Linked DNA regions of Homo sapiens. The protein of the gene in region 1 purifies or fractionates together with the protein of each later gene. This does not show direct contact. Each region holds a gene or a part of one and is shown in the gene's direction. Other genes may lie near its edges. The genes, in order: NT5E, NR2F2, USP22 and GJA1.

What was found.
Region 2: the proteins of NT5E (region 1) and NR2F2 purify together in Homo sapiens (affinity purification with mass spectrometry; 3 studies listed by BioGRID and IntAct, with this or other methods). This does not show direct contact.
Region 3: the proteins of NT5E (region 1) and USP22 purify together in Homo sapiens (affinity purification with mass spectrometry; 4 studies listed by BioGRID and IntAct, with this or other methods). This does not show direct contact.
Region 4: the proteins of NT5E (region 1) and GJA1 purify together in Homo sapiens (affinity purification with mass spectrometry; 3 studies listed by BioGRID and IntAct, with this or other methods). This does not show direct contact.

Annotation. Positions count from the first base shown.
Region 1 is NC_000006.12:85,487,528-85,495,554, forward strand, and holds part of NT5E (5'-nucleotidase isoform 1 preproprotein), read left to right. Parts: intron 1-1,966; coding exon 1,967-2,072; intron 2,073-2,980; coding exon 2,981-3,130; intron 3,131-4,449; coding exon 4,450-4,650; intron 4,651-6,313; coding exon 6,314-6,477; 3' UTR 6,478-8,027. UniProt on the Homo sapiens protein: Catalyzes the hydrolysis of nucleotide monophosphates, releasing inorganic phosphate and the corresponding nucleoside, with AMP being the preferred substrate. Shows a preference for ribonucleotide monophosphates over their equivalent deoxyribose forms.
Region 2 is NC_000015.10:96,326,336-96,333,699, forward strand, and holds the start of NR2F2 (COUP transcription factor 2), read left to right. Parts: upstream 1-4,364; 5' UTR 4,365-5,770; coding exon 5,771-6,212; intron 6,213-6,229; exon of another isoform or gene 6,230-6,286; intron 6,287-6,925; exon of another isoform or gene 6,926-6,972; intron 6,973-7,364. UniProt on the Homo sapiens protein: Ligand-activated transcription factor. Activated by high concentrations of 9-cis-retinoic acid and all-trans-retinoic acid, but not by dexamethasone, cortisol or progesterone (in vitro). Regulation of the apolipoprotein A-I gene transcription.
Region 3 is NC_000017.11:21,011,386-21,019,412, reverse strand, and holds part of USP22 (ubiquitin carboxyl-terminal hydrolase 22), read left to right. Parts: intron 1-227; coding exon 228-329; intron 330-1,301; coding exon 1,302-1,471; intron 1,472-3,513; coding exon 3,514-3,661; intron 3,662-6,477; coding exon 6,478-6,583; intron 6,584-8,027. UniProt on the Homo sapiens protein: Deubiquitinase that plays a role in several cellular processes including transcriptional regulation, cell cycle progression or innate immunity.
Region 4 is NC_000006.12:121,431,335-121,438,645, forward strand, and holds the start of GJA1 (gap junction alpha-1 protein), read left to right. Parts: upstream 1-4,311; 5' UTR 4,312-4,498; intron 4,499-7,311. UniProt on the Homo sapiens protein: Gap junction protein that acts as a regulator of bladder capacity. A gap junction consists of a cluster of closely packed pairs of transmembrane channels, the connexons, through which materials of low MW diffuse from one cell to a neighboring cell.

The DNA of each region.
Region 1 (8,027 bases):
AGGAAAGGAAGAGGGAAGAGGAAGGAAGGATGCGAGAAGGGATAGATCGATAGCTACAGAATGAGGGATTTCAAAACATTTTTAGCCAGGGTGGTGGCATGTGCCTATAGTCCCAGCTACTCGGGAGGCTTAGGTGGGAAGATGGCTTGAGCCCAGGAGGCTGCAGTGAGCTATAATTGCACCAGTGCACTCCAGCCTGGGCAAAAGAGCGAGACTCTGTCTCTAAAATTAAATAAATATGAAAAATAAATAAAACATTAGTGCCTAAACAAAAGCCTGATGTAGCTTCATACTCAGTACCTTCTTAAGGTGCTGGAAGGAGATCAGGTAACCACCAACATACTGCTTTACAAGAACTAAAACCTTTATTTTAAGGTGTTCTTAGATGTCTGAATTTTGGATGTTGCTTTCCTTTTGTAAGATGATGCAAATGCACAAACTCTGCTACCCTGGAGATATCAACATAATAGATAAAAGCATATCTGTTTGGCCAGACTGTTTTTCACTCATCTGTTCACTTGACTCCAGAGAACCCTGGCCTTGTGTGACAGGAACCTCTTTCACAGGCACAGAAAGACAACACACAGTTTTAATGGTAATAACAAGTCCTATGGCTGAGCAAGACCAGGTATGAAGAACAAGCCCGTCTACTTGTCACCAGGCGGAATGGCCATGGTAGCTCTCTGGGGGCCTTACTGAGCCAAGGTCTCCTATGTCGGACTACTACTTCCATGGGCTCACAGCCTGCACCCAGGGAAGTCATTTCTGTCAGTGCTTGGCATGCATTGCCCAGTGCCCAGGATACAACTGCACTCGATAAATGTTTGCCGTGTAAATGACAACAATCATGCTCATGCCAAGACCAGACTCATGATGTCTCCTCAGCATCATGCAGTCAATGCCAGAGAAGTAGTTAAGGAGAAGCTGGTATATAAATGTTAAGAGAAGTCTGGAGGGAAACAACCCAGGCTGTTGGCAGTGCTTATCCACTCTGTTAAAGAGGCTAGGACAAAGGAGAGCTTTTGCTTTTTATTTATTTATTTATTTAATTAATTAATTTATTTATTTATTGAGACTGAGTCTTGCTCTGTCGCCCAGGCTGGAGTGCAGTGGCATGATCTCAGCTCACTGCAACCTCCGTCCCTTGGGTTCAAGCGATTCTCCTGCTTCAGCCTCCCAAGTAGCTGGGATTAGAGGTGTCCACTACCACACCCAGCTAATTTTTGTATCTTTAGTAGAGACGGGGTTTCACCATGTTGGCTAGACTGGTCTCGAACTCCTGACCTTAGGTGATCCACCTGCCACAGCCTCCCAAAGTGCTGGGATTTACAGGTGTGAGCCACTATGCCTGGCCTTTTTTTTTTTTTTTTTTCGGCTTTTTGTCTCCTAAATGAGAATATATTCATTTTATTTCTTATAACTAAACATATATTTTGTAAAATAAAAGTAAGAATGGATGTGATTCTCCCCAGCTTCAAAAGGCTGTCTCTGTCTTTCCAAAATTGCCAACTTGGGAATCAGCTGCAGACATAGACGTGGAGGCCAGGTTCTCTTTGGCATGAGGTCTGGTGTTGAGCAGGCTCTAGGGCCAAGCCCTCAGAATCAGGCAGAGGGCATGGCCTGCCCTGGAGAAGCCTGTGCAGGAGTGACTCTGCAGGCCACCTTGCATGGGAGGCCCAGTCCCGACACCAGGGCTACAACCGAGAGACCATTTTGCTAAGGCCACCTGGCCTGACAGTATGGGAGTTTTAGGAGGGGGAAATAAGAGTTTGACATGGACTGGTAACAGTATATTTTTACTTCTGGGAGCATAAAATTAGTTCTAATTATAGTTGAGAGATCCCTGGGAACACAGCAGCAGGTGAAAAGCAGCTTTATTTCCTCACTAGAGCTAACCAGATTCCTGGAGCTGATCCTAAGGAAGAAGAGCCAGAGTAACTAGTGTAAATCTGTGCTACTGTTGCAGATTAACAACAACCTGAGACACACGGATGAAATGTTCTGGAACCACGTATCCATGTGCATTTTAAATGGAGGTGGTATCCGGTCGCCCATTGATGAACGCAACAATGGTATGCTCCCAGGCCCAGCTCCTCAGTGTGTCATGTTCTCTCTCTGATCTCCTTTTCTGTTATGGTTCTTGCCCTGAACACACCCATGTGCAGCCTCAGTTCATCTCTGCTGCCAGCCATGTACCAGAATGTCAGTCCTTTAAATTAGGGTTAGCCATTATTAAAGTCTAAAACCTAGCCTGAAGGACACACACAAGCTTGTGTGTTCTTATATGTATTCACACACAGAAGCTGCAGGTAAGGTTAGTGGAACTCAAACTTGGTCTGAATTTCTGACTTACAAAGCTATACTAGTTGTTTCTGATTTATGCAAAATAACAACAGTCACCACCTTGGCATCTGAAAAGAGACAAAATCACCAATCTTCTGTCCTGAAAAAGACATACCACTGGATTAAAATGTTACCTTAGTATATTTACAGATATCCAAGATTATATCATATGGCAAAACAAATCAACTACACAAATACTCAAGACACTCTTGTAGCCCTCCCTGATTTACTGTGAAAACCAATCAGTATCAGTATAAGGCCCCAAACGCATCCCATTGTCAGACAACAGGGACAGGTTGCAGGGGCACATTGTTTGTCTGGAGGAACGGAACAATGCAAAACAAACTACTGGAGATCCAGCCCCAAGCTAGCAGATCTAAGACTGAGCATGGTGAACTTCTGAGGCACAGCCATTTGTGAGCTCCCGCCATCTTGCCCAGTGGTGGAGTGCAGGGCCAGAGGCCTCCTAAACTCATTCCCTTCCTCAGTGTCAGGAACCACTTAGACATAGCTAATGATGCTCTATAAGCTTCCCATGTCCCCCTCATTTCTTCCCCCAGCGCTGAGGGAAACTGGTCATGGTGTAAGCATTTTCTCAAGCTATTTTCCTTCTTGCCTCATCTGTGACTACCCTCAGGCACAATTACCTGGGAGAACCTGGCTGCTGTATTGCCCTTTGGAGGCACATTTGACCTAGTCCAGTTAAAAGGTTCCACCCTGAAGAAGGCCTTTGAGCATAGCGTGCACCGCTACGGCCAGTCCACTGGAGAGTTCCTGCAGGTGGGCGGTAAGTCACCCATCCTGTAGGGCTGGCCCATCCAAAGTGACATGGCATTTCCTGCTGGTTGGCTCAGCTTCCCCTTCACCAAAATTCCTGTGGTCAAACTGGTTTGGATTTTTCCCGACCCAACACCAATACCTTACCCTTTAATGGCTGTGGACTCTCAGAGCCACTAAGATTAGGTTGGGGTCAAAGCCCCAAAGCCCCAAAGCCCTGGCAATAAGCAGTATTTGCCAAGTCTGATTTGGACATCAGATGGGCCCTCTAAGCAGGTCACCTGCTTTGAGGTCTAGTTTCTAATAAAATCTTATTTAAGCATTCAATTATTTTTTTTTTAAATCCTCTCCTCTGTTCTACTCATCGTTGCCTGGAACCATGCCAAGATTTAAAGGAATGCTGTCCAATCTGTATTAACCAGGATGATTCCTGGAAGGAGCAGCCTACTGCACAGACATACCTGAACACCTGGTTCTAGTCCCACTGTGACCTGGGGCAAGTTCTCAACCCCTCTGGGCACAGGGAGAAAACCTTTCCTGTTTATCTCATGGACTGCAGTGAAAGTTGAATGGAAATAAATGCTTCCTAAATTGCCAAGGGCTTCTGAAACACTTTTGTTAATAATTCCACAGTCCAGTGAATTAATCCTTTAAAAGCAATCTTATTTTACCTGGAAATCATAATCTGGCCTCATTTTTTTAACCTTAGGTTGTGGTCCCGCTTGACAGATAGAATTGCTTTCCTGAGTTTTCCTCTGCAGAACACATTGCTGTTGAGACTGAAGGGCTACAGAAGGCAGTGGGGCCCTGTCCTAATGCCTATGGGGCAACCCAAACATCCTCCATTTTCCCAGAAGGGAGTTGAGGGAAAAGCAGTTTTCTGATGCTCTAGCAAAGCACTGCATAGCTCTATGCCTTGTGGAAGTCACCAAATCCCAAATGATTACCATTTAATGGTCTTCAAAATTGTAAAATGCTCTCTGCCTCTGATCTGTTTCTCACTTTCTAAGGCCATTGAATCAATTTAGTAGACCAATTCAGCATTTTAAGGGAAAAACAGAAAAAGATGTGGTTTTGTCCATGTAGAGTCACCCTTTGCCTATTCTGGTCCAGAGCTGGTTTTCCTTCCAGTGGTTCTCATATGTCCTGTAAGGACTCAAGGATAAAGGGTGGCTGCAATGTCACAATTCTCTTGACAAAATTTCACTCAGGTTTAAACCAAAGGAAAAACCACAGCCCCATGCCCCAATTGTAGAGTTTGGCCAAAATTCCTTAGGAAACAGAAATCTCCCTTTGGATCTGGTGAAAACAGATTCATTTCTTTTCTAGGAATCCATGTGGTGTATGATCTTTCCCGAAAACCTGGAGACAGAGTAGTCAAATTAGATGTTCTTTGCACCAAGTGTCGAGTGCCCAGTTATGACCCTCTCAAAATGGACGAGGTATATAAGGTGATCCTCCCAAACTTCCTGGCCAATGGTGGAGATGGGTTCCAGATGATAAAAGATGAATTATTAAGACATGACTCTGGTAAGCATGACTGTCTCTTCCTTTCTCTAAAGAACAACAAAATTGGGCCAAGAAGGGGAGCTACTAGTGGTGCCAGGAGGGCAAAGTGACTCCCTGTATTGCTGACTCCCTCCTGCTTTGCTTGTTGGAAAGCAGCAGCACAGCACAGCAGAGAGGAATATGTACCCTGTCAATCCCCGAGCACACACATGCCTTCATCCAACCCCAGAGACAAAACATTTGTAAATCAAAAATGTTTTAAAATTCTTTTAACTACATCTAAGCAGCTATTTAAATTGTGAAATATAAGTGAGTTTTGCATTAACAGAAATATCACACCTCTGGAATTTTAGGATATGGAAAACCATCACATTAAATCATTTAAATTTTCTTTCTTGAAGAAGTTTCTGTGTGAATCAGTCAGGTAGAAGTGGATGGGGTGAGCGCCGCCCTTTCAGCACAGTGGGTTGGTGGTACAAATCATAGGAATAACCATACTTGATGTCAGTTGGTACTTCTGGCAGCATTGAGGGACATTATATGCCAGCCTCACTTTTAGAAATTCTGTTGAGAGTCACATTATGTGCATACAGACCACTGACATAGGACACACTTCCCCTTCCTCTTCCTAGGGCAGAGACCAGCATGCTTACAAGACACACAAGCAGCTTCTTGGCATCTCTGGGTAGTTCCACCAGGATCTTCCTCAGTCTTATCATGCTGGACCTGTCATTTTAGCTACTTATTCCAAGGAGCGTGGAGGGCAGGACCAGACCAAAGGAGGCAGCCCTTCCTGGGAGGAAAGGTGCTGGCTTCTTCTGTCCCTTCCGTGACAGAAGATGGAAGGGCAGGCGTAAAAGCCCCATGAGACAAAGAGGCTGATAGCCATCAGCTGTCCACCACTCAAGCCTAGACTGAAGGATGTTAGAGAGAGGAGCTCATGCAGAAGGCTAAGGAAGCCCTGGACCTAAGCGTTCTCAACACTGGTTATACATTAGAATCACTTCAGGAGCATTTTAAATTAAATACCAATGGCTCGGCCGCAGCTCTTAAGAGATTCTAAGTTAACTGGATTGGGGCTAAACTCTTTTTCAGTGATTCTAGTGTACACCCAGAGGTGAAAACCACTGAAGAGAGAAGGGTTCTTAAGTACTGGAGTGATATTTTTAAAATAAAATTCTGTTGGGTTCCCAACAGAACATGGGTTCCCAACAAACATGGGTTTGTTGTAGCTATAGGCAATTAGCATTTATCCTCTCCTCTCTTTGGTAAAGGAAATCCCCCAAGTCCCATCATCAATTACATGAAAATAATTATTGGGCAGGCAAACAAAAGGAAGCCAGTTTTATCTCTCAACTAATTGCTCTTGACCCAGTTCCCTAATGCCCTTGTTCTGGAGTGGTTCAAAGGCTATGATGTCAATGACCTCTTTCTAGAGTCATCACAGAGCTGAGGCAACTCTACTTCCCCCAATTACCCAATATTGAACAACAGACACATTTTACATCTGGAGCATGAAAAAGCAATCAAATTCTTTGTACTTATGATCACTAGCGTTCTTGTCTTCTGTGACACTTTACCCCTGCTTATGAAATTGCTTCCCTTTTATAATTACAAAGGACTACCTTACTGTTGATTGATAATTACCTTTTCTGTAGTTAAAATAATGTATATGTTTTTCTAGGTGACCAAGATATCAACGTGGTTTCTACATATATCTCCAAAATGAAAGTAATTTATCCAGCAGTTGAAGGTCGGATCAAGTTTTCCACAGGAAGTCACTGCCATGGAAGCTTTTCTTTAATATTTCTTTCACTTTGGGCAGTGATCTTTGTTTTATACCAATAGCCAAAAATTCTCCTTGCCTTTAATGTGTGAAACTGCATTTTTTCAAGTGAGATTCAAATCTGCCTTTTAGGACCTGGCTTTGTGACAGCAAAAACCATCTTTACAGGCTCCTAGAAGCTGAAGGTTAGAGCATTATAAAATGAAGAGACAGACATGATTACTCAGGGTCAGCAACCTAGTGAGTTAGAAAAAAAATTAACATAGGGCCCTATAAGGAGAAAGCCAACTATGTTAAGTTTACGTGTCCAAATTTTAATGAAATTTTACTAACAATTTTAAACCATATTTTTCTTCTTCATATCCATTTCTAATCCATCAAACAGCTTATGTTTACATAAAATTTTATCATTCACAAGGAAGTTTTAAGCACACTGTCTCATTTGATATCCACAACTTATTTTTGGTAGGAAAGAGAGATGTTTTTCCCACCTGTCAGATGAAAAAACTGAAGCTCAAAAAGGGTTGACTTGACCATACAGCTAATGCTGACAGATCCAAGACCTAGACCTAGGTCTTTTGAACTCAAGTCCAGCATTCTCAACTATATCAAGTTACTGTTCAGAATACTTAATATCTCCTCTCTTCATAATTATCAATAGCCCCAAGCTCATGGATGACAAATCTCTGCTTTATTTCTTGTCTCTATTTTTTCACTTTATAGCTCCTGTTATAATAGCAAGTTTAATGGTATAAACACAGGATACCATCCTCTCTTGCAACACCCATGTGCCTTTGATGAGTCAGGTAGCAAGCTGTAGTAGATAATGAGAAAGGCCAGAGGCTGCAAAAGACAGTCAAAGGACACGAGAGAAAGGAAGGGGAAGAACAGGACTCCAGGACTGTTTTATATTATAGAAAAGCAAGAGCTAAAGAGCATTTACACATGTTAAACAGATACTTGTTAAGCATAGTGCCTGACACACGGCATTAGCTGTTATTTTATGAGATTCCATCAGCTCTGCCTCTGTCCTCTTTCTTCTAACATGAAGGTATCATGAGAAGAGAACCTTCTAACATAAGCTGTAATTCTAAACCTGCACTTGTCCCTCTCCAGCAAGAGGCTAGCACTGAATTCATTCTACTCATACTACACACCCAGTTATGGAATGTCCAGAGTTCTCGAAGAAAATAAATGACTTTAGGAAGAGGTATACATTTTTTAAGTCGCTCTGCCTCCAAATCTGAACAGTCACTGTAAATCATTCTTAAGCCCAGATATGAGAACTTCTGCTGGAAAGTGGGACCCTCTGAGTGGGTGGTCAGAAAATACCCATGCTGATGAAATGACCTATGCCCAAAGAACAAATACTTAACGTGGGAGTGGAACCACATGAGCCTGCTCAGCTCTGCATAAGTAATTCAAGAAATGGGAGGCTTCACCTTAAAAACAGTGTGCAAATGGCAGCTAGAGGTTTTGATAGGAAGTATGTTTGTTTCTTAGTGTTTACAAATATTAAGTACTCTTGATACAAAATATACTTTTAAACTTCATAACCTTTTTATAAAAGTTGTTGCAGCAAAATAATAGCCTCGGTTCTATGCATATATGG
Region 2 (7,364 bases), on another chromosome or scaffold:
AGGCAAATATGGTTTTGGTATGTTTACTTACAGTATTTTTTCTCTCTCTCTTTCCTTTCTCACTTTTCTGCTTGTGCTGTGTGGGGTTGGGGATGACTTGGGGCTTTTCAAAATATCGGTTTGCTAACGTGTATGAAATGCCGAGGACTGTGGTTTAAGGGGTTCGGGGAAGGGGGGATCAGAGTCAATTCAATGCATTGCCATATTTTATTACATGTGTGTGGTAGGAGAGATGGTGGAGGGGGAGGGGGGAAAATACAATTGCAAAGCTGCCAAAATATGATTAAACCGAAGCGTTAAGACTGCGGAGCCTCCTATCTCCTCGTCCTGTCTCCTCAAACTCATTTCCTTCCACAGAGCAAACTAAAAACCAGTCCTATAAAGCGTGGTTTTGCAAGCAGCAGATGACTCGGTTTTCTAGCAAAGGAGCTGCTAGGCTCGCACTAAGTATCAGAATTTACTGTTCGCTTTGCCTCTGCGCTTCATTTTGCAACCTTGTGCAACTGACAGCCAGGCAGGCAGGGAGGGAGAAAAGCCTAGCCCGGCGCCCTCGGCCACGGTTCGGGTAGGCGAGCGCTCGGTTAAGCTAGGAGGAGAATCGCGACGAGAAGGGTACTCACCATCGGGCGGGGCGGTGGAGCTGGCGTGCGGATTTCAGGCAAACGTTTACCTTTTTGCTGTCTATTGCAACCGCGCCGGGCTGACTTAAGAAGCAATTCTGTGCTCTGTCCAGAACATTCAAGGAGCGGTTCCTCATTTTTAAAAAGCCAGCGAGAGAGACGACAGAGACAGAGAGAAAGAAAAAGAGAGGAGGGGGTGAGGGGGACGCACATAAACCCAGTTCAAAAAAAAAAAAAAATCACCTCTTCGCCAGTGACTCGGGAAACGCAGAGGTGGCGAGATCCGAGTACGGTCCAACCAAGCCAGAGCCAATTAATTTTAAATCCTGAAGAATTATTCAGATTAAAATGTACAGAAGTTTCGTTCTCCTATGCCTACGTGAGTCCAAAGTCGTTTCCCTTTAAGAGCTCCTTTTCTTTTAAAGTTGAATTTTAGGCAGCGAGGACTCTTACACTAGGGGGCAGACAGATACTGTACTTGCTCTAATCTTAAGCAATTTTTTCCCTCCCAGCATATGCTCTGATTTAGCACTGTAAATTTTTCAGAGGACCTAACTCTGACAGCCCCTGGTGATTTTCAAAGTACCACAAGCCAGTGGTTAAAAATTGCATTGACTTGGAAGTTCAGAGGGACACAATGGAAGCCCCTTTCCCTATTCATGGAGCTCCAGTGTGGTGGAAGAGAAAAACACACACGGACTAGATTGAGGGAAAGGAGGAATTCAATGAATCCTGGAGGACGGAACTGGTTTCTACTGAGTTCAGAGTTAAACTCGGCATTTGCTGGGGTCTGTATTCATATTGTGATTCAATCTGTAAAGAAATACAGCCCATCAGGCCACTTTCTGCAAGAAAATTATATTCCTGGGTGTTGAGTTTCTTTCTTTTCTTTTTTAGATTAGGGCAAATGTTGTCCCAACTTTCTCTAGGCAAATTAAAGCTTGCCATTCTTCTCATTATAATAAATTTACATCTGCAAAAAAAGACTGAGTTGGATTTTTAAAAAACAACAATAATATATTGATTTTATCTTCTCAGAGCTTTTTAACCTTAGACGCACAGCAAGTGAGCATCTCTGGAGAAGACATTTAAAAATATTTTTGCCCTTTTTTCTTCTCAGTCTGTAGTCTTGTCTCTTCTTCTATGCATTAAAATTAAGTATAATTCATACGGTGATTTTTTTTCTCCCTTGTAACAGCATTTCATAACTGAATGAGTCCTAAAATACAGAGTGAAACACCCCTGACTTTATGGCAGCCCTGTGATCATTTGCCTAGCAGGCTCCAATTTGTTAAGATATGGTTGGGAAATTATTCCATTTTAATCTAAGGCCATCACGCATACTTCAAATTCCAAAAATCTCTAAGTGGACTGGGGAAGCTCTTCCTCCTCGATATTGTTCCTTCCCATGTTTGTAAAAGGTAATCTGCTATGGAAGTCTCATTCAGGAGGTGAGATGAAGATTTCCCTATAATCAATTATTTTCATCCTCTATTGAGATGGGAATGCCCATTAGATTTCCTATCTCAACCCCAGTCTCATCACATCTCAGCTGAGCTTGTCCCGAATCTGCTGACATTTGTAACATTAGCAATTCCTGAATCATAGAGGTTGGAAGGGAAAACAACAACAACTACCAAAAACCTTCTCCTGTGTAATGATTTCTTTTCCATCCTTCTTATCCTCTTTAGGAGAAAGTTATATTGTGTCTCTAATTAACCTGAAATTCTCAGCTTGGCTTCATTCTGTGGCAATCTTATTACACACCAGGTTTATGATAGTTCAGTGTCCACTATAGGTTTGCTGGGCTTTTTTTTTTTTTTTTAACAACTTTCAAATAAACCGAGAACCTGCAGCTTTAGTGAAATACGTGATTTCATCGGAGAAAGAGTGAGGGCTGAGGTTTCGGGAATGAAGCTTAAAGAAGATTTTTCCTTTCCTAAAAACCAGCCCCTATCTGCCCAGATCTTTAGTCCTTACCTCATATTCTGCCTATGTGTGTAAAGAGAATTGAATGTAAAATGTGATCTATGCATGTCAATTATATGTATGGTTTATTTTTAAAATATCTTTACCCTGTCAATTTTTTTTTCAGCTACCAAGGATGTTTTCTGTGGTCATCAATTTACTCTTCATATGTGTTCATTTCTTTCCTGGAGCTCAGCGTCTTTTGTGTAAAATATTTTAATTGTTCACAAACCTGGTTGGTTTACCGGCATGAGGTTTTTTCTTGGTGCAAAGTGTGTACAAAGGAGACACAATTTTCTTGTATAAATGTGGAATAATGATAATTCACTAACTGGTCATAAACAACAAGTTTACTGCGTTGGAATATAGTGTGTTCTGAGAGCAATTCTACATGTTTGATGTTTAAAACCAGACACCCTGGAATTCAAAGACACAACTGTCTCAATTATTTTAGCACATGGAGCAGAATGGCAATAGGCTATGAAGTTGTTCTTTTTGCAGTGACTTCTTGAGGTAGAATATGGCTTGGGTTTGGTTCTTGTGACCTGTACTAGTATTATTTCCCATTTGGGGCAGAATCTCTGGGTGCGTTTTAATGACTATATGAATGCTTAAAAGGAACTTGAGGAACAATGAAGTCCGTACTCAACTGTTCTATGACCTAGAAGCATAGTCGGTGAAGTCTTTGTCTGTGTACATTGACAAATGTGCATCTGATACATGTGCGCTTACATGTGTGTACAGAGGGTGTGCACAGGGGAGGCTGGGCGGCTGCCTCCTCCTGTCCATCAGTGGGCAGAGGTCTTTCCCCTCTCACCATGACTGGGTGTGTGGCAGGATGTTGGCTGGAGAGTTAGCTAAAACCAGCGAGAGAGGGTAAAGTTGAGGAAAATTGATTCTAATTGCATCATGACAATCAGATGAAGTCTATTTCTGCTTCTCAGCATCCGAGATGCTTTATTTGGGCAATTAAAATGTCAGGCCACATACCTGTGAAATGTTAACCCTACAAGGAATAAACAGAAACAGAACGGCCTTTATCCTCTGAAAAGAATATATGTCATATATATATGTCACCAAACCGAACAAGTGATCAGAGTTAATTAAGAGAAGGGTTTGCCATCACCCGGATCTGGCCAACTCTTTCGTTTGGAAAATGCCTACAAGCTCAGTTCGTGGCACCTTCCCACCCTCACTCCCTATCCCTCTGCAAAGAAACCAGGGAACTTTTCTTTGGCATTGTGGGTACTAAGATGCGCCAGGAGTCCCGGGTGGTGCGCGAGCGGCGGAATTCGTGACATCGCCAAGTTGCGAGAGGCAAACTCCCCGATTCCATCCAAAGCCTCTCGCGGAGCCTTTAAGAGACGTTGTGTGTGCGCGCTGCGCTAGTCTCCCCGCCGGGGCGGAAACCTCGGGTGCGGGATGTGGGGAGAGCAGAGGCAGCGCTCGCAGGGCCAGCACGGGCCCATCCCCCTCTCGGCGGCGGCGGCGGCGGCGGCGCGGCCACCCCGTCCCCGCCCCCCCAACCCCCGGTCCCCCGCGTGCCCCGCGCCGCGCCGGCGACGCCGCTCGCGCTAGGACCGGGCTGCGCCCGCGGCCGCCATGGCGGGGCCGCCGCAGTCCGGCCAATGACGGCGAGGGGGCGGCGCGCGCGCGCCTGGCCAGGCCAACCCCGGCTGCTGCCTTATAAGGCGCGCCGTCGCCATGGCAACGTGCGCTAAGTTGCAGCAGTCGTGTCAAAGTTCACTATATAGAGAGCTCAGTGAGCTGATCGCGGAGAAGCCACTTCTGCCAGCCCCGGCGCCTATAAATCGCATTCCCTCCCGCGCCCCCCTTTTTAGCATATTTGATCACTTTGATTCTCTGTTCTTTTCTCTCCGCGGTGTGTGTGTGCGTGCGCGCGTGTGTGTTTTCTTCTTCTCCTCCTCCTCTCCCCGAGTTGCCTCCTTTCTCCGGGTGCCGTACTGCCTTTTTTCCCCTCTTTCATTCTTTCTCTCCGTCTTTTTCTCCCCCCTCTGCGCACGAAGGATGTGCTTCTAGGTGGTGATCTGCCCTCCTCTCTCTCTTTTATCATTTCTCCCCCGCCGCCGGCGAGTTGACTCTTTCCCTATGTGTGTGAGGCGGCGGCGGCAGCAGCAGCAGCAGCGGCTCCGGCGGCGGCAGCAGCGGCAGCAGCGACTTCAGCGGCGGCGGCGGCGCTAGACGCAGCGGCTCCGGGCCCGACCCGGCGGCTTCGGCGGCGGCTCCGGCGGCAGCGGCGGCCCGGGCGGCCCGCAGGGAACGGCGAGCGGCCTCCACCCAGCGACTGCGGGCGGCGGCGGCCGGAGAGAGCGAGGCGCGCGCCGGACGCCCGGGGCAGGCGGCGGCGGCGGCGGCCCAGCGCCAGGACGACGCCGCGCAGCGCCCGACGCGGACCACTTTCATGCTGATTCCCCCGGACCCGGGCAGCGCTCCGGCCACTCCGCGGGCCGCCGGCCTCCGCCCCGGCCTGCCTGGCTCCCTGGGCGCGCCCGCACCCGGCGCCTCCGATCTCCTAGTCCTCCTGATTTCGATGGCTTTCCTGAATGGCTGACTGTGGGCTGCCCTGGACTTGGCCCCCGGACAGTCGCCTCTCCTCCTCCTCTACCTCCTCCTTCACCACCACCTCCTCTTCCTCCTCCTCCTCCTCCTCCTCCTCCGCCAACTCCTCGGCTGCACACCAGCTCTAAGAGCGAGAGTGAACGAGAGAGGGAGGGAGAGAGTGAGAGCGAGCGAGATCTTTGGAGAGATTTTTTTTTTTGCCTCCTACTTCTGTCTTGAAGCCAGACAATCGACTTCAGCTCTCCCTCCCCTCCCTCTTTCTCCACGTTCTGCTCCCACTCGCTCTCCTGTCCCCTTCCCCTCCCCTCCCGGCGGAAAGCCCCCCGAAACCAACAAAGCTGAGCCGAGAGAAACAAACAAAACAAACACACCGGGCCAGACAAGCCATCGACAAAACTTTGCAAAAGCAAAAACAAAAAAGGAAAAACTAACCAACCTCAACCAACCAGCCCCCGAGCCACCCGGGGCGCCCTCCCGCGCCCTCTTGCACCCTCGCACACACAAAAGGCGGCGCGCCGGAGCCCGAGACCCGGGGAGCCGCCGCCGCCCCGCCGCCGCCCGCAGCCAGGGGAGCAGGAAGTCCGGACGCAGCCCCCATAGATATGGCAATGGTAGTCAGCACGTGGCGCGACCCCCAGGACGAGGTGCCCGGCTCACAGGGCAGCCAGGCCTCGCAGGCGCCGCCCGTGCCCGGCCCGCCGCCCGGCGCCCCGCACACGCCACAGACGCCCGGCCAAGGGGGCCCAGCCAGCACGCCAGCCCAGACGGCGGCCGGTGGCCAGGGCGGCCCTGGCGGCCCGGGTAGCGACAAGCAGCAGCAGCAGCAACACATCGAGTGCGTGGTGTGCGGAGACAAGTCGAGCGGCAAGCACTACGGCCAGTTCACGTGCGAGGGCTGCAAGAGCTTCTTCAAGCGCAGCGTGCGGAGGAACCTGAGCTACACGTGCCGCGCCAACCGGAACTGTCCCATCGACCAGCACCATCGCAACCAGTGCCAGTACTGCCGCCTCAAAAAGTGCCTCAAAGTGGGCATGAGACGGGAAGGTATCGGCCTCTCATTTCTCCTTCCCTCGTCCTGGGTCCCGGGGTCCTGGGTACGTTTGGCTAGCCTGCTCTGGGTAAGGACAAGAAGCCCCAAGCTCTTCTCTTCGTATTGCAGCGGAAAAGGGTTTTATACTAGAAGCGAGTTCTGCATTGGAACCCAGACCCCAAATCCGCATGCTTTGGCCGACTGATTTCCTTCTTTACTCTCTCTTTGGGCTGTTTCCATTTCCTTTGCATTGATTGTGAGTTCACTGGAGTCTGCCTTTCTGCAAGGGATGGGGTGTTTGTTGTTGTTGTTTTAAAGCCTAGTTTACTTCTCTCTCTCTGCCCTTGTTTTTCCTGCATGTTCAACATGTCCCTCCCCCTCACCCCTTTCCCCAGCCCCCACCCTCTCAAAAAAAAAAAAAAAAAAACCTGAGATTGTACTTTTGTACAGGAGGTTCAAATTACAAATGGCAATTTTATGCACTTCGCCGTATTAACGCTGCCGCCCGGGCAGCGCTCATGTGACCCTCCGTGGATTAACATCCTGCTAAAAAAAAAAATACCTCTGCTTTCTTTTTTCCTTTCACTTTTTGAAACGAAGAGAGCGCGATAGGAAGTAGGAAAGGGTGGGCGAGGGGCCCTGGGCGGCTGCTTTCGCTCTGCGCGAGTTGGGTCTTTGTGATATAAAATTCGCCGAGCGCCGCGAGCCGTGCTTTGCCAATGGCGCGCTCGGCGCGGGGCGCGGGCTCCGGGTTGGGGCGAGCCAACGCCGGGGTTTCTTTGTGTTTCTGCGAGAGCGACTCTCCCGGTCCGGAGTCAGATAACAGCCTGGGCCCGAGCCTCGCCGGCTTTCCCCGGCCCTTACAGGCCCTGCCCAGGCTCCGCTAGTGCCGGCCGCCTGCTCCCTGCCTCTCCCGGCTTCCTCTCTCTTTAGCCGGCCTCTCTCTCTCCGCCCTCTCCCTCCGTCTCTTTCTCCGAGCACACTGATTAGACAGACGCCAGACCTCCGCTCTCTGCTTGTCTCTCACTGGGGGGGTTCCCCGCCGGGCTGGGGCTGGGGCTTCGGGGTTTGTGGGAGAGTCGTTCCGGAGTGGCCACAGGCCGTCTGGGGTGGACCCTCGTGCCTTTTGCAAAAGCGCCTCACCCTCCCCCCAGACTCGCCCCTCC
Region 3 (8,027 bases), on another chromosome or scaffold:
CTTGCAGGAAACGTAGCTCACATCCTCATACCCTCTGTGAGAAGCTCCTTTAAGTGTTGTGTGTAGCCCCTCTCAGCACAGTAGAGTTTGAGAAAGCCCTGGTGCTGTGGATGTTGCTCACTGAAATGCACCCTGACAGACAGCATAGCGCCACAGCTTTTATGTGTAAACACACTTGATGTGAAAATCTAGCTAATAGCGCTTGGAACTGTCCTTCATCTGCTTAGGCGTTGGAGAGAAGTTTTCAACTTGGGAACCAACCAAACGGGAGCTTGAACTGCTGAAGCACAACCCGAAAAGGAGAAAGATCACCTCGAACTGCACCATAGGTGGGTGGAGCGTGTCGTCACTCTCAGCTAGGCTTCTTTCCAGGGTTTAAAAGTAAATACAGAATTGTGGGTTTCTTAAGTCCACATGATTCTGTTGAAGCCCTGCATAACTGTCACTCATCAATGTGCTCAGCAACCAGCTCTTGAGCACCTGTTCTCTGCAGGGACCTGCAGTGGGCTTGGGGCGCAGAGTGATGCGTAGCAACAGCCCTGCCCTCACAGCCTTCAGCGTCTGTGTGGGTAAAGGGACTCAAGTTGATTTTGGCCAGGGTGAGGCTGGGCACAGTAATCTTCAGGGAGAGAAATGATGTGTGTGAGTGTAAGTGTTCGCTGAATTTTCTACAAATTGAGGGAATACCCTTTAAAACTTTTTCTTTTTCTTTTTTGAGACAGAGTCTTGCTCTGTTGCCCAGGCTGGAGCACAGTTCACTGCACCCTCTGTCTCCTGGGCCCAAGCGATCCTTCCACCTCAGCCTCCCAAGTAGCTGGGATTGCAGGTGCACACCACCATGTTTGGATAATTTTTGTGTTTTGCGTAGAGACATCTCACCATGTTGCCCAGGCTGGTCTCGAACTCCTGGGCTCCAGTGATCCTCATGCCTTGGCTTCCCAGAGTGCTGGGTTACAAGTATGAGCCCCTGCCCTGGCCCTAGAACATTTTTAAAAACCTGTTTTGTTTGTTCATTAGGCTTCACTCTGACCTGGCCTGTTGTCGTAGAAACTATATTTGTGTAATTCTGTCAAAGCATACAATGGCTGAAGTGGGAGGGGTCCATGGTGGTGGACATTCTTCAATACCGTTCATGTAAAAGTGGCATAAAAACTAGCAGAATGCGATATCTCATCGTGTTCTGGCTTGAATGAATGAATAAAAGAAAATGAGTATGTAGAGGTAGAGGAAGCCGCTGGGATCCAGCGACACCTGTGGTTCAGCACACAGGTAACTCCTGCTCTCTGGTGATTTGTGTCCAGGTCTGCGTGGGCTGATCAACCTTGGGAACACATGCTTCATGAACTGCATCGTGCAGGCCCTGACCCACACGCCACTTCTGCGGGACTTCTTCCTGTCTGACAGGCACCGCTGTGAGATGCAGAGCCCCAGCTCCTGTCTGGTCTGTGAGATGTCCTCACTGTTTCAGGAGGTGAGCGCCATTGACTTCTGCAGGGGAACATTTCTGTTACTTTGTTTTCACCTTCAAAAAAAAAATTTAAGGTGGACCATGATAAAGGAAGATACATTTAGAACCTTTTGTAGTAAGTTAATGTTTAATATACATGTCTATTATGGAAAACACAGTTTTCCAAAAAGGGAAGACCTGGCGTGATTTTTGGGGACGCACTGCTGACTCAGAACAAGGAGAAGCCCTTTGAGAGGCTTGTGGCAGAGACTTCCCTGGTGGGTGACATTTGTCTCTAAAGACGGGTGATTCTCCCCCTTCCTCTTCCTCCATGGTCTACCTTCCTGGCTCAGAAAGGCACGCATGTGTCACCCTCCTGTGTCCTCCTGGTATGCGAGTCTCCTCCACCGCCAGGTCTCTCTAAGCATGCCCCATCAGAGCCTCTGTCCTCATGAGCTACGCGCTGCACGTTGGCTGTTCCTGTGGGCTGCACGTGTGGCGTTCCTGTCCACTTCTGTCCCCGGCATCAGAGCATGGCAGCGTTCAGAGCAAGGCGTTCACGGCTGCCGCCTCAGCCCTCACCGGCTCCGTGACCTAGACATGCTTCTCAGAGCTGAAGCAGCTCAGTTACCTCAACTAATAAGCAGGCTGGTGCCTGTTCTTCAGGTGCCTTGCACAGGAGCCAGCCAACAGCCCTGGCCTGTTCCCATTCGTAACCTCTGCGAGAGATGCAGCCACGCCAGCTCACTCATGTCTGTCTGGTCACTGGTCGCTTTTGTGGGACAGCCACAGAGTTGAGCAGTTGGACAGAGGCTATCCAACCTGCAAAGCTGAAATTATTTACTGTCCAAGCCTTTCAAAAACAGATTGCCAGCCTCTGGTCGAGCCTAACCGATTTCCTCAAAGTACCTGCAATGTGCCATAACTGCTGGGGACACGGCCCAAATAGGAGAAAGGAGGGTGCAGCTGGGAAGTTGGTGGGTGGTTGTATCACTGACTTTAGTGATAAGCTCACTTGTGTTAGATTGTTTTTAGACTCCGGCTTGTTAAGGTGTAAATTACAGTCACACCCACCTTCTAGCCTATAGATAGATGAGTTTCGACGAATGCATAGTTGTGTAACTGCTGCTACTCAAGATGAAGAACTGTTACCTCTCCGAACTCCCTCGTGCCCCTCCGAAGTCAACCCCCAGTCCCCAGACCCTGGTAGCTGCCGATCTGTCTTCGGTCCCTTGAGTGTCCTTTACCAGCGCATCATACGGATGGATGCATGCAGGAAGTAGCCTTTCTGAATCTGGCTGTCCCTACTTAATGTAATACTGGGTGGATTCACCCGTGTCTTGCGTGCATCCATGATGTGTGCTTTCGATGTCTGAGTTGGGTTCCATTATGTAGATGGGTTATGGTTTAGTTGTCTGTTTCCCAGTTCAGACACATTTGGGTGGTCTGTGGTTTTGGGTTTTTTGATGAGAAATAAAACTGCCCTGAATTCTGTATTTGCACAGGCAAGACCCCTCTGTGGGTTCTGACCTGGGGAGGAAGCCGTGGGATGGAAGGTGTGCTGCTGGGTCTGCGGCTGGAGTTGAGCTGTTGGAGAGGACTGGCTGGCAAGCCCTCAGCTAATTGCCATTAGCCTCAGAGGCAGAGAATCCTGTGGCTGATGCTGGTGAATTCTGCATAATCACAGTGATGTGCTTCCCTTTGCGGAGGTGCTGGTGTCCATGGGCCTGAGTGGTTTGGCTAGTGCTTTGAGGAAACTAGTATTGGGCAAATCGAGTCACTTTTATTTGCATGTGATCTCATAGTAGCAAGTCATAATTCATTTTTTAGGCTTATATGTGGAAAACTAGATGGTAGAAAGGAAAAAATTCATATGAGGACTCGAAAAGTCCAGTGAGCCCAGATAAAAATAGACTTTGCAAAAAGTAGAAAAGTAAAATCCAAACATTTGTGTCAAATGAGCCACAGCCAATGGTAGGCATCTGATAAAGGTTTTGATTGTGTGTACTCTGTGTTCAGAGTCTACATTTATTCCTGACAAGGTTTCCTTCCCCGCCCTCTGGCAGTTTTACTCTGGACACCGGTCCCCTCACATCCCGTATAAGTTGCTGCACCTGGTGTGGACCCACGCGAGGCACCTAGCAGGCTACGAGCAGCAGGACGCCCACGAGTTCCTCATCGCGGCCCTGGACGTGCTCCACCGACACTGCAAAGGTGGGCCCTGGGCTCTGCACCCTCCACCAGGGCAGGATGTTTTCCTTGAAGGGGAAGGAAGCAAAGCGAGTGTATGCACTCGTGCAAAAAGGGGCACAGGTGACACATTCCATTGTTTTGTCATCATAGCCCTTGTCGTCATTTGTTTCTGAAGTCACCATAACTAATGACCTCAGAGAGGCTCCTCCTAGTTTATTTTTAAGAGGCGAGGAAGTAGTTCCAGCAGTATGACAGGTCCTCAGTGACCGATCACAGTGAACAGCAAACTCTTGGAGCCCTCTTGGGCCTGTGCTTTGAGGCCCCTGCCTGCCCTGGCATTTCTGGGACCCTGTGGGTTATCAGGCCTGAGGCTTCTGGACATCCCCCAAACACAACTTAATCACCCAACTGTCTCCTTCCCATTGGGGACTCTCCAAAAGGACTGATGGTTGCTCTGAAATAGCCAGAGAGCTGGGACACAGGACGAGCAAAGCTTCTCTTGGGGTCTCATTGGACCTGGGCCATCTCCCCCAACATAGTCCCACAGCCTGGCCCCAGGGTGGTACCCTGATGATTTTTCAGAGTTGTGTGGTGTTGGTAGTTGGCAGGGGCAGCTCTTAGCGCTGGAGGTGGGAGGCTGGGAATGAATGACTTGAGCCAAGATCGGCTCCTCCCCACTCCTCATGGTGGAGATCCCAGTGTGAGGGACCTGCAGCTGAAGTCTATCCATACAGGCAGAGAGACTGAGAGGTGATTCTCAGATGAGTGTGGGCTGGTCACTTGCAGGTCTTCCTAAAGCCCGTGCTGGCGTTTCTGATTCAGCAGATCTGTGGGGGGCAGGGGCTTCTTCACTCTTAATCAGTTCCCAGCTGATGTTGATGCCGCTGGTTCAGATGCCATACTCTGAGAACCCATGCGCTCAGGTCACAGGGCACCTGGCTGCTTGTGAGTTTCCTGTGGTCTCTGGGCTGGCACAGCTAGTTGTAGCCGATATCCTATCAGTTAATTTTAACTTGGAGTCTTTTAGAGAACAGAGTCCTGTTCTGACGGTTCACCGAGTTGAACAGCTTGGTGGGCTGGCCTTCCCATCGCTTCTCATCCGTCTCAAGGCTGTGCACCCGGGCCCTAGGCGCTTACGTACAACCTATGGGTTCTGAGATCACAGCCCAGAAACAACCCACAGTTGAGCTAAAATGGCTGGTTTTGGTCAAATGTGACTTTGGGTTCTGTTTTCTTTTGGTACTTACTTTTTTTCCTCTGAAAAACTACGTGATCCTTTTAATTCTTACCTAGAAATCAAAGGAAAGTTACTTAGTAGCTTAGGTAGAATTTCATGTCCTAGTATGATTTATAAGAGAGGAAAGAGCCACTGTGGAAGTGACTATGCTGTTACCCCAAGCACCTAGTGAGAATAACGAAGAGCCTTCTGTAAGCAGCAGAAAGATGTTCTAAAAATCACTTGTTCAAAAATGCATTGCTGTTAAATGTTCACATGACAAAATGTGACCTCTGACGTGCTTCTGACAGAATTCCCTTGGAAATGTCTGAAAAGAAATGTAAGGTTCTTCTGTTTAGAAACCTGGTTGCCAGAGCTGTTCAGCGAGGTGGCCTGGCCACATGGCCTTGGTTACGTGCATTTTGTCCTTGTGGCCTTCACGGCATCTTTCTGTTCATCTTTTGTTTTGTTTTGTTTTGTTTTTGAGTCAGAGTCTCGCTCTGTCGCCAGGCTGGAGTGCAGTGGTGCGATCTCAGCTCACTGCAACCTCCGCCTCCCAGGTTCAAGTGATTCTTCTGCCTCAGCCTCCTGAGTAGCTGGGACTACAGGCGCCCGCCACCATGCCCAGCTAATTTTTTGTATTTTTAGTAGAGACGGGGTTTCACCGTGTTAGCCAGGATGGTCTCGGTCTCCTAACCTCGTGATCCGCCCGCCTTGGCCTCCCAAAGTGCTGGGATTACAGGCGTGAGCCACCGCGCCTGGCCATTCTGTTCATCATTCTTTGCGCCTTCCTGTATGGATATTCTTGTCCTCTGAATTTTGTCCCATGAATTTGAGATCCCTCTGGGAAGCATTTTTCTCTCTAATCTTAAACCTTCTGCTCTCAGAAGACTTAGTGGCCCTTCTCTATTCCTCTGTCATGATTCAACGTCTTTGAACTGTGATGTATATACAGGTGTCCTCGTGCCCTGTCCCCACTGTCTAGTGAAGTTATGTAGAATATGTATTCCACACACGAATTAAGTTCTGCTACTTAAGTTTCTTTTTCACAGATCTGCACACATGGATATGAATGAAGTGTGTATTGAATAGAGAGGGTGGGAGTGGCACTTCCAGATGCAACTGACTGGAAGACACGCTGTCCCCTGGGGGCTCTAGCTGATGAGGACAGCCTGTGTCCTGCGGTGTCACTTTCTGAACTTGGGGCACCATGATACCTACTCAGGGAGGGAGGTTGCTGGGGCTTCCCCGGGTGTACCTGGCCCACCATATGTTCAGCTGTCTCACTGGAACAATATTGATTCAGTCATTCTTTATATGATAATGGGAATCGATTATTCTGCTCAGTCACTGGGCATTAGGTGGGTTTTCTTGGCAAGACTGAAGCTGTGGGGCTCTTGTTAGGGAATGAGAAAAAGGAGCATTGAAAATCCAAGTGCTGTGATTTCTCGTCATATTAAAATAACAAGGACACCCTCTGCTAAAATGAGGAGTGTCCTCACATGGCCTTTTAAAGCGTTGGCCCTGGCTCCCCCAGGCTTCTGCAGGGTGAACTGCTCTTCCCTTAGAGACTCCCCATATTTGGGGAGACACTAATCCCAGAGCCGTGGTCTGTCTCCAGGTGATGACAATGGGAAGAAGGCCAACAACCCCAACCACTGCAACTGCATCATAGACCAGATCTTCACAGGCGGGTTGCAGTCAGACGTCACCTGCCAAGTCTGCCAGTAAGTGAGAGGCTGCGTGCTCGGCAATATCAAACCCTCTGGGGCCGTACTGACATCCTCCCAGTCTCCAGAGCTGTGTGTGCTCTGAGAGGTCTTTAAGGAGGCTATGAGATAAATGATTAATAGACGCCATGAGAGCGAAGGTTGTGGGGTGGGGGTGCTTCCTCTTGGGGAGGTCGTAGGGCAGGTGTCCCCTCGGGATGCGAGCCCTTCGTGTTGAGGTCTTGGCTGTTGTCTACAGCCAGCAGTGTGTTCTTGGAAGCTTCCCCTACCATTTTGCATCTTACAGTCCTTGACCAGGGACCAAGTGAAAGAGCCCTCTTCAAGAAGGCGTGGATCATGCATGGTGGATTGTTTTTCTACGTGCTTCGAAGTGTGTTAGTTTTCATTATTTTATGGTTTCTGGTTCCATTTTCTGATGTAGTGGCCCTAATTCTTCTCAGATGTGGTCTCTGCTTAGAGCCTCAAGTGTTGAGTGCAGGGAGAATCCATTGCTTTGTTAGGTCAGGGGACCCTCTCACCCAACCTCAGTGCATGCTACAGGTTTTTTGTTTTTGTTTTTGTTTTTTTCAGGCATGGGGTCTTGTGTATGTTGCCCAGGCTGGCCTTGAACCCATGGGCTCAAGCGATCCTCCCTCCTTAGCCTCCCAAGTAGCTGGGACTACAGGCATGGGCCACCGTGCCTGGCTCTGTTCTTTACTTCAGTTGAAGTTTAAAAACCCTGGACATGATCCACCGAAATTATTTCAGAACCCGAAATGGACTGTCACTTCTAAACTGCATAAGACGAGCAAATATCGGGAAAGGCCAGTGCTGCCTGTGTCACGGGGGCCATTTTCTATAAGGAGCATAGACCGTTTGGGGCCTTGTCTCTGAGTATTAGAAACCGAGTTTGCTCTGAGCAATTTGGACCTCCTCGCTGTCCCTTAACTACTGAATTCCATTAGTAGGAGATTGTCTCAAGATTTAAATCCTGTATAAATATCGAGAGTAAATTTCCCAGTCTGCAAGTTTTCATTTTTTATATTGTTAAATAAATTTCTAGCAAGGAACTGGCCTTGTGAAATGCAGCATTGACTGTCCAGTGCAGGCCACCGGGCCTGGCCTGGGCACGCTCTGTGAAATGTGCAGGGGTCTCCAGTGTTGCCTAGGGTCACAGGCCCCAAGTTCTAGATGCAGCTGAGATAGACCTGTGGATTCAGAGCCTCTGACAGGGCCCATGAGTTTATCCTCCTCCCAAGTCCCTCAGTGACTGTGATGGTCTCCAGACTGGGAAGTCCTTGCTTGAGGAGCGCCCCTCGCCTTCCGAGTTCACACACACCCCTCCCCAGGGCCACCTTGGGAGCCAGGACACGTTGGGTGTGAGCACTGCTGCTCTTGCTCCTGCCCCATCCCACCTGAGTGTCACTGTGACAAAGGGCACAGCGGGGAAGGGATGTGGGAA
Region 4 (7,311 bases), about 36 Mb from region 1:
TAGCTACTTTGAGAAAATACCTTCAAACCCTAGTTTCATGCGGCCTATACTGTCTGAAAACATTTTCTTTATGTTGCACTCATTCTCTTTTTAACGGAGTAGCTGTCCTTTCAAAGTTAACTACTCCTCCAGTGCACAAGTAATATTTTCCCACAAATAAGCCCACTTGTAGCTATTTTAAATACCTTTCCCTTTCCCAGATGTTACCTTGCCTCTTTTTTCATTCTTTTTGTCTGCATTAAATGAGGAAATCCACCAAGGCTGTGTGTGTGCTTTTTGGTACACTGCCTATATCCCATCTCTTAGTAATTTCATCTGTACCTGTGGCTTCTAATTACAAATCTTTTTTTTTTCTTTCTTTTTTTTTTCAGATCCTCTCACCTCAGCCTCCTGAGTAGTTGGGACTACAGAGGCCTGCCACTATGTCTAAATAACCTTTTTATTTGTTGTAGACACAGGGTCTCCCTATGTTGCCCAGGGTGGTCTTGAACTCTTGGGTTCAAGTTGTCATCCCACCTCAGCCTCCCAAGTGCTGGGATTACAGAGTTGAACCACTGTGTCTTCCCAATCACAAATCTTATAACAATTTTTTTTTTTTTTGAGACTGAGTCTCACTCTGTTGCCCAGTTGTAGTGCATTGGTGTTATCTTGGCTCACTGCAACCTCCACCTTTCAGGTTCAGGCAACTCTCGTGCCTCAGCCTCCCGGGAGGCTGGGACTACAGGTGTGTGCCACCACGCCCAGCTAATTTTTGTATTTTTAGTAGAGACGGGATTTCTCCATGTTGGTCAGGCTGGTCTCGAACACCTGACCTCAGGTGATCTGCCCGCCTTGGCCACCCAAAGTGCTGGGATTACAAGCATGAGCCACTGTGCCCCGCTGTAACAATTTTAAAGTGAACGCCACAGCTCCTGTTTTAAATTGTCAGTCATCGGTCTTTACCTAGATATTTCAGTTCTTCATACCAAAATATTTCAAACAAATCTTTGTATCTCTTTCAGCAGGTCAGTCCCTCCCCGAGCTTCCTTTTTTTGTGTTAGTAACATTTTCCCAATCAAAACTCCAAAAATCGGTTTCCACAGCCTCCTCTTCCTTGTCTTCCCATTCATCCATCATCAAGTTCTGGTAATTCTACCTTCCTTTCCTTTCTTTCTGCTAGTATTGCCTTTCAAGTTCCTATAGCTTACTGCTCTCCCATTACAATACTCTTCTTACAAGTCTAATCCGGAGCCACCAATTATTTAACGTTTATGCTACTCAATGAGGTGAAAGTAATCCATCAGAGTTTATGTGGGATAGGCATTTAAAGGCCTTAAAAATCACTCCATTCATTTCTTAAAATTTCAGAAATTCCTATTTTGAAACAAAGGTAAAAATCCAAAAAAGGAGGTGGTTCTCATATTAAGAAATATTTCTCACAATTCTGAAAAAAACTTACCCTCCATTGTGCCAACAATGTGCATTTTGCAAAATATATATAGCTACATGGAGAAAACAGAATCAAAGGCCTGGCAGGTCATTTGGCCTAAAGAAGCCCTGCAGAAGACAGAAACTGTAAATAACTGTTTCTAGTTCTCCAAAGAGCAGTGTTAATCAGGCTGCATCCATTTCTTCTACATAGACAAGGTCTGGCAATCAGAGAAGACACAGTTCTAGGAAGTCAGTGTTTATATTAAAGAAATGGCATTGACATTTCTGAGAATATGAGAAAAACACATTTAAAAAAAAAAAACTATTCCACAATTTTTGCAAAACATTCCAATGGAGACAAGCTTCTAAGGTCAGATAAGTGAGATACTTTTGAACAATTTTGCTATTGATAAAAATATAACTCACCAACACTGCTAGAGTATGAGTTATAATAGAAGTTGCTACCTGTCATTTAGAGACCCTGTTAGTTGTCCATGAGAGAAAACTGTGGGGCCTTTTGCAAAACCTAGTTTGTCTTGCACATGATTACTCATAGCATTGCATTTCAGTGCCATTATCCCAAAAGAAGAGAAGCTTCTTCAGAATGTCTTATCAATGATATTTTCATGAAATCATGTTGAGATCTTGTATCAATGATCATGGAAAAATGATTTTAGAAAGAAAAGACATAGTACGTTCATGTATTAAGAGAAGTAACTAATTACTGGCTCATGCTATGAGTAATTCCTTTGGCTCAGAAAATAGTTCAAGTGATATCCATGAATAATTTAACTTGTTATAAGGAAGTTCTTTAGCTCTATTTCCAATTGGTCACATAGGTAATAGATTAAAAAGAAAAGAATACTTTACAAGAATATTTAAACATCAACATTCATCTATAGACCTAACAAAACATAACAGAAATAAACACAATTTTTTTTGCTTTAAAAATCCTATTATAAAACAGTCAATGACAACTTTTCTTTCATGTAACTTATTCTGAATTAGCATCATGGTAATGTTTTTTATAATTGTAGTTGATAAATAATTTTACAAAAATAAATTGTTATGTAAATTAAATGAAGCATACTTTTTTGAAAAGAAGACATGTATTTTCTTACGATAAAAAGAATAAATCATTTTCATGAATATGTTCTAAGTCCAATGAAATAATTTTTAGTTAAGACAAAACAATAGATTTATTTAAAGAACAATATAAATACAAGACCAAAACAACATTTATAGGTTGCTGAACCTGAAGACTCGAAAGTCAGGTTACAATTTCTACTTCCAGAAGATTGTTTTTCCCCTTTCTTAATTTAAAGAAAAATGTACTCTTGGAAATAGGATAGCCAACAAGTAAAAGCAAAATTGTTCCTTAAAATTGCAACATTTGGGCCCAGCGCGGCGGCTCACGCCTGTGATCCCAGCACTTTGGGAGGCGGAGGCCTGTAATCCCAGCCACCCAGGAGGCTGAGGCAGGAGAATCACTTGAAGCCGGAAGGCGGAGGTTGCGGTGAGCAGAGATGGCGCCACTGCACTCTAGTTTGGGCAACAAGAGCGAAACTCCGTCTCAGAAAAGAAAAAAAAAAACCTGCAACATTTCAAAAGATGTTATATTAGTCATTTCAGTGAAAGTTTAATTAGGGAACGGTGTCTACCAGAATATATTTGGCATCCTTCTTTTTTCTGGTATTTGCCTGAGTGAGAAAAGTGTTAGGAATAGGAAGGCCAGATGAGTTTGCTTTCCCTCCAGAGAATACTGGCCAAGAAATTTCCTGTCCAACCTCAGGAGCATCACTGAAGCCTGTTTATGAGGAATTGTCCTACCACAACACTGTGTTATGGCATTTGGGAAGCCCTCAGAGGAGCTGCCTGCTCTAAGATTGAGGCCACATGACTCAGGCCATTATAAACCCTAATGCAGAGCCCTGAAGAGGGAGAGCATTTGGAAGGGGATAGGGAAGCACATAAAGATGATATGCTCAGCTTTACTGTCGTTGGGCAGAAAACTCTCTAGTGGGCTTGAGAGGGGGAACTGATTTTAAGGAGGGCTGAATAGTTTGGGAACCTACTTAATGCAACCATAGTCTGTATTTTTAAAATCCTCACATTTCACTACAGATTTGGGTTTTAGTGTCTTGGCATAAATAGGGCCTTAATATAAATTCTTAGTTTTCTGGAGACATGGTAGAGGTCAGATATCAAGATTTCATAGGCAAACAAAACATGCTATATATGTAAAAAATGTATATACACACACAGCCTTTTGCTAAACTGAAAGAAAGTAAAAATTCAAAGCAGTCAAGGGGTTGAAAGATGGATTGGGTATGGACTTTTCTTCATCTATGTCAATTTTTGAAATCTCTCTCCCATCTCCACCATTCCCTTTGTTAATTGTCCTTGCTTACATTTAAAGGAAGGGAATTAGATCATCAAACAGGTCACTCACACCTACCTCTAACTTCACACACCTTGGTCAATGTGAAACAAGCTTGAACTGGTTATATGCTTCCCCACCATTTTTATTTATTGTAAGCTACTTTAAAAATTTTAGACAATGTTGTAATAAAAATATACACCTTTTTCCCCCATTATCCCTGGTCTTCTGGTGAAGCAAGCAGTGTAATCAATGATTCTTATGTGTGAGGAGCAACTCCAAGTAGAGGCGTTCATGTCCCTAATGCTTTTTTATTTTTCCTCATCAGCAAATTTAAACTACAACTTTATCCTGATCCCACTGCTGCTCTTTGCCTCTTCTCCCCCCAGCCCTTCCACATTTACCAGCCTCCTCCCTACCTCCTCCCAGCCTTTCCCTTTGCCCTCCCCTTTCTTCTAGCCCCTCCTCCCAGTTGAGTCAGTGGCTTGAAACTTTTAAAAGCTCTGTGCTCCAAGTTACAAAAAAGCTTTTACGAGGTATCAGCACTTTTCTTTCATTAGGGGGAAGGCGTGAGGAAAGTACCAAACAGCAGCGGAGTTTTAAACTTTAAATAGACAGGTCTGAGTGCCTGAACTTGCCTTTTCATTTTACTTCATCCTCCAAGGAGTTCAATCACTTGGCGTGACTTCACTACTTTTAAGCAAAAGAGTAAGTTTTTAAAAAATGAGAACACGTTACCTATTAGTTTCTTTTTCTACAAGTAAAACTTTTCTAAAGTTTTAAAATGTGTTAAATGTAATTTTGAATTATGATACTGTAAATGGATTGATGGATTTGAAAGTGTTTCTATAGTTTTAAAGTTAAAATTTATTGTACCAAATATATATTTTGACTGTTAAAAAAGTTTCTATTAACATTGCAACAGGTGAAAAGGTTCAAACCTTTCCGATTAGAATAAAGGATTAGTTTACTGGATGTTTGGTTTTTCATTTTAGAGTATCATTTTATTTTGTTTTTTTTTTGTAATCAGTAATAGTCTAGGTGCTATCATTTGTTGGGTGGGGGGGGGGCGGTTAGGCGCCTGGGTTGGGGGATTTGACTGACTACATCGGAAAAATCAAAGTGCAAATTTGCTTAGCGTGCTTCCTATAGTATTCTACACTTCATAGAATAAAGTGCTTTTTTCATATGGAAATCTTGATTGATGTTCTATAGCTTTGCAAAGCCAACTTCTTTTGTGACGAAGTGCTTTGTTAAAACATCGTGGTTACTTGACTTCCACGTGGTTCCTTCCTAGAATTTTCCCCATTAAACAAAAAGGTATAAAATTCAAGAGTATTAATATTATGCTTTAAAAATCAACAGTAAATTGTTACTTTGTGTTAGCAACCGCTATGGAAAGATTTGAGACCCTCAGGAGAGACAGCTTTTACTCGACCACGTTGGCAGTTTAGGAGATGAAATCTCTTGAATGGGTGGTGGCTAGTTACAGAGCATTAGAGATCAGACGTTTAAAAAAGAGTGTATGCCAGGGTACTTTTCCAAAACCGTCTCCTAAAACGGGAGCTCCTAGAAAGAGCAGGAAAAAAACTTTCTTAAACAGCGCTTTGGGAGCTCCCCCCGCCAACACCCGCCGCCCCGCACCTTCCCTCTGCTCGAACCTGTAACAGAATTCAGAACTCTGGGGCAGTTCTTTGGAGTTGGAGCTCCTAGGGCAAAGATAACGCTAATGCGTTGTTTAAAAGGGTTCAATTTTTAAAATACTTTTATTGGTAACACCCATTCTGTTCATCAGAAATGCAGCCATGCATTTTTGTGCCCGGTAAAGATTTTCTGTTCTGTGTAAATCTACAAACTAAAATAATTAGTTTAGATTCTTGACGTGACCCTGCAGTGGAAGTATTTGCACCAGTGAATGCTGAAAAGCAAATAAAAATGAAAGCTTTGCGGAGGCCGTGGGCCGGACGGGCGCGGGGCGCCTCCTGCCATCTTAGCGTCTGCCGGGATCCTTCCCGCGCCTTCGCTGCCCGAACCAGCTCGGTCTTGGGACGTTTCCCCCAAATCCTCACAAGTCAAATCGAACTCAGGTCCGAGTTCGTCACTGCAAAGGAACCCGGGGTGCGGGGTGGGAGGGATAGGAGGAGAGATGGGCTGGGTGCCAAATGGTAGAACAAATGGTTGATTTAATTAAAGTTGTCAATCTAATTTCCCATCCCTCTCACACCAGCCCTTTTTTTTTTTCTTTTTCTTTTTTCCTCTTAAACTTGCTGAATCCCACTATCTCCGCGTTGGTAAGAAAACCTGAATACCTTGGGAATTGTGCTTAAATTGCACTTGCAACTCCCCTGGAAGTTCCTGAAACTTCCCGAGAATGAGGCGGGGCGGCTCAAGGGGAAAGGGCAGGGAGGAGAGACCCTCGGGAAGCTGATGACGCGTCCGGGGCAAGTCAGCCTGTTTCCGAGACGCGCGCCTCACGGTCGTAGCAGCGCTGCGCCCACCCTGCCCCTTTAGTGACCCAGCCAGCCTTTGCTGGGGGTTTCTGATAACGCTCATCGATAAGCTCTCCTTGCTCCCAAAAGGCGTGCTTCTCTTTCTCTCCAGGTACAAAGTAGGGGTGGGAAGGGGAGAGCTACACAATGTTGTAAAAAGAAGCGTGGCTTTATTTGGAAGACGGTTGAATTTCTTTTGCTTCCTCGACCCAGTTAGTAACGACAAGAAAGATACTGAATATCGCCCTCCGAAAATCGGGCGCATTTGAACTCGGTGAAAAGTGTCCCTGTGAGGAAGCCTAATGTTTACTTTTGTGCAAGGATAACTGGAAATTAAAGCGTCTAGTAATGCAGAGATTTCATTAAGCGAGCGCTCCCCTCCCCCCCGCGCCAGGAATGAAATAAGCCAGTTAGACAGAAAACACTTTTGGGAGAAGACTAATTACTTCTGGGTAGGCCGAATTGACTGGAAATTATACCAAGCAAAGGCAGTACATTCCATTCCGTCCTGGCGATGTTGATTCTATATTATTAGAACATTGTTCCCCCAGTGTGGGGGTGCTTTGTACTTCCCAAAGTCAGGGTAGACTGGTTACCTGGGAAAATGCAGTGTTAGTGCTTTGCTCCTACTTTCTTCACTGTTTAAACATGTTCCACATTTTTCTAATGCCTTCTGAGGGTTCTCAACCCAGCCACTGAGTTCCTCACCCTTGGCGACTGTGATACCAACAATGCTGTCACCCTCCTTGGGAAACATGGTTGCAAAGATGCTCCGCAGGAGGCAGATAAAAGGCTGTGCTTTCAGATACTGAAGGTTGCTTTGTTACTTAGATGTTTCCAATTCCTGCATAGAGAAGGAGGGAAAACACGGGGTGCATTCTTTCTTTTCTTTTCTCTACATCCAGGGGTGTAGCTTGGTTTGAGCCTTTATATATGATACCCGCAGGGAAGGGAATGATAGGACAGTCACCAGTGATTAATACCTTCCACTCCGCCTTTCCTGTTGTTCTGACTTATCTTCAGGATTCTCAG